Linked DNA regions of Homo sapiens. The protein of the gene in region 2 purifies or fractionates together with the protein of the main gene of each other region. This does not show direct contact. Each region holds a gene or a part of one and is shown on either strand. Other genes may lie near its edges.

What was found. Proteins that work in one complex are often made in the same cells at the same time.
Region 1: the proteins of ZNF808 (region 2) and ADISSP fractionate together in Homo sapiens (co-fractionation; one large-scale study listed by BioGRID). This does not show direct contact.

Annotation. Positions count from the first base shown.
Region 1 is NC_000020.11:3,755,381-3,757,753, forward strand, and holds part of ADISSP (adipose-secreted signaling protein), read right to left. Parts: intron 228-2,373; coding exon 89-227; intron 1-88. UniProt on the Homo sapiens protein: Adipocyte-secreted protein (adipokine) that acts as a key regulator for white adipose tissue (WAT) thermogenesis and glucose homeostasis at least in part through activation of protein kinase A (PKA).
Region 2 is NC_000019.10:52,554,252-52,556,836, reverse strand, and holds the end of ZNF808 (zinc finger protein 808), read right to left. Parts: coding exon 1,209-2,585; 3' UTR 501-1,208; downstream 1-500.

The DNA.
Region 1 (2,373 bases), on a different chromosome or scaffold from region 2:
CTGCCCATCCACCCTAGTTGGAAGTAAGGGAGCACCCCATGTTCTCACTCCCACACCCATCCAGGCCCTGCTGGAGGAGGGGACGCACCTTCAGGGACGGGCACCACGCTGAGGAGCTTGAGGTGCAGGCTGGGGACAGGTGCCTCGCGGACATCCTTGCTCAGCCTGTGCACTGGGGGCAGAGTGAAGGTAATCTCATACCTGTGCAGGATCTTCAGGAAGCCAACCTACAGCAGGAGAGGTGAGGGAGGGAGGCACCTTCACTTCCTGCTTCCCGCAGGCCCACCCAGTTGTGCCACCTATGATCCCATGCGCCCCAGCACCTGCTTCCCCAGAGAGCCCAGAAAGCCCAACTCCCTCCATCACTCCAGCTGATCGACCCCCAGCCCAGTGGCCCCAGCCCTTTCACAGACCCCTTGAGGGTCCCAGCCCTACAGCTTGGCCAGCAAGATCCTCAGCATCTGTCTCACGGGCCCCAAAGTCCTCAGTGGCTCATTTCATAGACAGGAAAATGGAAACCACAAAATGACTGGCCAAAGGCTATGTAGTGTGGCCAGGGTCAAGTCCTCCCTAGACTTCTTGGCCATTCCTGCTATGCATGGCACCCAGCAAGGCACCACCCACTGCCTACAAGGGAAAGTTCAAAGTCCCATGGGTCATTCACCTGTCCCCATCACTGCCAGTATCCCAGGGTCAGGGATGCTGGTCCTCCATTCGCTCATAGGATGACACCAGGCCACAGATAGCGTGGGATGAGGGATGGGATCAAATTAGAGATATGACAGTAGACCAGCTGTGTCAGCCCAGAGCTGGCCCACAGGCCTGGCACCAGCCACTGAACTGGGGCTCCTGGCTGCCCTGCTGGCACTGGACTGGGGATGCCTGCCTGCCCACTCAAAGGCTGTGTCCAATGGCCCATACTCACGACCCAAGCAATTTCTGTTGTTCATTCACAGTGCTTGGTGACAACCACCCTCTGGGACAAATGCCATTCTTGGAAACTCCAGTAGTATGAAGGGTCACAAGCCAGGGTGGTTGCTGAGCAGGGGGGCTGGTGGGGGTGCCACGCCAGCAGGCAAAGGGTGCCTGCTGTACTCCCAGCTTGCATGGGCACACAGAGTCCTGCTCACAGTTACTGGGGCTGGGCAGCCCCATCCCTGGGGGCCAACTGGGACTGGCTGCAGAGAGTTTTAGCCATTCAATGGGACCAGGTTGATATTGCTACATGACAAACTTCAATCCATGTGCCCCCCTCATGCTCTGCTGGTAGGGGGCACATCCCTCAAGAAGGCTTTCTGGCTGTACCTGCTAACTGTGACCCTGTGACCCAGGGGTACTACTTATAGAATTTTCCAGGGGAAATAGAGATGTGCAGAAAAATACTCTTCGCTGCCCTATTTATAACAATGAAAACAAAAACAGCCGTAACACCCAGGAACAGGGAGCCAGCTAAGTCAATGATGACACGTATCATGGACCAGTAGGCAGTTGTAAAATCTCGTGGAAAATTATTTACTGACACAGGTAGGAGACAGTTCACAACAGAAGCAAGCAAAAACCAGTGTGGACACGGTGAGGCCAGCTTTTGTTTTTGGAAACAAAGCTTTTTAAAATAAGCTGGATCCATCACCATAGTGTTTTCAGAAAAATAAATAAATAAATAAATAACATTTTAAAAAGCTGGAATAAGCCAGGTGTGGTGGCTCACGCCTGTAATCCCAGCACTTTGGGAGGCCGACACGGACGGATCACGAGGTCAGGAGATCGAGACCATCCTGGCCAACAGAGTGAAACCCCGTCTCTACTAAAAATATAAAAAATTAGCTGAGAGTGGTGGCACGCGCCTGTAATCCCAGCTACTCTGGAGGCTGAGGCAGGAGAATTGCTTGAACCTGGGAGCTGGAGGTTGCAGTGAGCTGAGATGGCGCCACTGTACTCCAGCCTGGAGACAGCAAGACTCCGTCTCAAAAAGAAAAAAAAAAGCTGAAATAACACACATCAGAATATTAACCATGGTTATTTTGGGATAGTATGACTGTGGGTACTTTTAAATTTCTTCATATTTTCTCTGTCTTCCAAATTTTCTCATGTCTATTAAGACATGAGTGGATTTTGCAATGAGGGGAGAGAGCTATTTTTAAGTGTTGGTTTGTTCCATTTACTCTCTTGGGGAAGCTGTCAGCTGTAGGACAAAGAGTGGGAACTTCAGAGTTGGACAGAAATGGATACAAACCTGGGCCCCCCAGGTTCTTTTTTGTTTGTTTGTTTGAGACAGAGTCTTTCTGTTGCCCAGGCTGGAGTGCAGTGGCACAATCTCAGCTCACTGCAACCTCAGCCTCCTGGGTTCAAGCAATTCTTCTGCCTCAGCCTCCC
Region 2 (2,585 bases):
AATGACATAAGGAAAGGAAACTGAAAACCAGACTAACTGGTTAAAATACATTTTTTTATTTATAATTTTTTTTTTTAATAGACGGAGTCTCACTCTGTCTCCCAGGCTGGAGTTGCAATGGTGCTATCTGGGCTTACTGCAAGCTCCACCTCCTGGGTTCACCCGCCATTCTCCTGCCTCTCAAAAAAATAAAAAATAGAAAATAAGAAACAAGACCGGGTACGGTGGCTCATGCCTGTAATCCCAGGACTTTGGGATGCCAAGGTGGGCAGATCACCTGAGGTTGGGAGTTCAAGACCAGCCTAATATGGAGAAACCCCGTCTCTACTACAAATACAAAAAATTAGCCGGGTGTGGTGGCACATGCCTGTAATCCCAGCAACTAGGGAGGCTGAGGCAGAGGAATCGCTTGAACCCGGGAGGCGGAGGTTGTGGTGAGCTGAGATCACATCATTGCACTCTAGGCTGGGCAACAAGAGTGACACTCCATCTCAAAATAAATAAATAAATAAATAAGAAAATAAGAAACAAAAAACAGGATGGCGAAAGTGGCCGACATCTGTTGGCCATGGTGGTTTCAAACTTCTGACCTCAAGTGACCTATGTGCCTTGGTCTTCCAACGTGCTGGGATTACAGGCCTGAGCCACCACACCTGGCCCCATCCTCTTAACATAAACACTTGAATGTCAATTAAGGCTTGAACTCAATGTTAAGTCAACACAAACTCAAGTCAATGCTGAATTGACTCCAATGTCAATTAATGCTTGATGGTTTGCTATACTCACTGCATTGGGAACAGTTATCTCAAAAATGAATTTTCTCATGTTCTGCAAGGAGTGACCTCGGACTGAAGACCTTGCCACACTGATGACATTTGCAAGATTTCTGTCCAGTATGGATTCTCTGATGTCCAACGAGGTGTGAATGTGAAGTAAAGGCTTTGCCACAATCATCACACTTGTGAGGTTTCTCTCCTGTATGAATTCTCCTGTTTTGCATAGGATGAAGCTTGACTGAAGACCTTGCCTCAATCATGACATTTGTAAGGTTTCTCTCCAGTATGAGGTTGCCAATGAACTGCAATGTATGAACAATGTCTGAAAAACATGCCACATTTATTACACTCAGAAGATTTCTCTTCATCATGGATTCTCCAATGATTTGCAATTGTTGTAGTGTTACTGAAGACTTTGTGACAATCATTATATTAATCAAATTTCCCTATACCATGAATTGCCTGATGGTGAATAAGTGTTGACCGGTCACTAAAGGCTTTGCCACACTCATTACACTTGTAAGGTTTCTCTCCAGTATGAATTATCCTATGTCTTTTAAGGTGTGATTTGCGACTGAAAACTTTGTCACATGCTTCACATTTGTAAGGTTTCTCTCCAGTATGAATTCTATGATGACGTGAAAGGTGTGATTGTTCATTAAAAGCCTTTCCACATTCATTACACTTGTAAGGTTTCTCTGCAGTGTGAATTCTAATATGTCTTGCCAGGTATGAATTACGCACGAAAGCCTTGTCACAAACCGTACATTTGTAAGATTTCTCTCCAGTATGAAGTCTACGATGGTATACAAGGGATGACCAGTGACGGAAGGTATTGCCACAGTCGTTACACTTGTAAGGTTTCTCACCACTATGAAGTCTACGATGGCATAGAAGGGTTGCCTTCTGACTGAACGTCTTGCTGCACTCACTACACTTGTAAGGTTTCTCACCACTATGAATTCTACGATGGCATACAAGGGATGACCTGTTACTGAAGGTCTTGCTGCACTCATTACACTTGTAAGGTTTCATTCCACTGTGAATTCTAGTATGTTTTGCCACATAGGAACGACACACGAAAGCCTTGTCACAAACCTTACATTTGTAAGATTTCTCTCCACCATGAAGTCTACGATGCCATACAAGTGATGACTTGTAACTGAAGGTCTTCCCACACTCATTACACTTGTAAGTTTTTTCTCCAGTGTGAATTCTTGTATGTCGTGCCAGCTGTGAATTCCACGTGAAAGCTGTGTCACAAACCTGACATCTGTATGGTTTCTCTCCAGTATGAATTCTCTTATGTGACTCAAGAGCTGATTTCTGACCAAAAACTTTGTCACATGCTTCACATTTGTAAGGTTTCTCTCCAGTATGAAGTCTACGATGACGTGAAAGATGTGATTGTTGATTAAAAGCTTTCCCACATTCATTACACTTGTAAGGTTTCTTTGCAGTGTGAATTCTAGTATGTACAGCCAGGACTGAATTACGCATGAAAACCTTGTTACAAACCGTACATTTGTAAGATTTCTCTAGAGTGTGAAGTCTACGATGGTATACAAGGGATGCCCGGTGACGGAAGGTATTGCCACACTGATTACACTTGTAAGGTTTTTCACCACTATGAAGTCTACGATGGCATAGAAGGGATGACCTGCGGCTGAAGGTCTTGCGACACTCATTACACTTGTAAGTTTTCTCTCCAGTGTGAATTCTTCTATGTCGTGCCAGCTGTGAATTACACGTGAAAGCTGTATCACAAACCTTACATTTGTATGGTTTCTCTCCAGTATGAATTCTCTT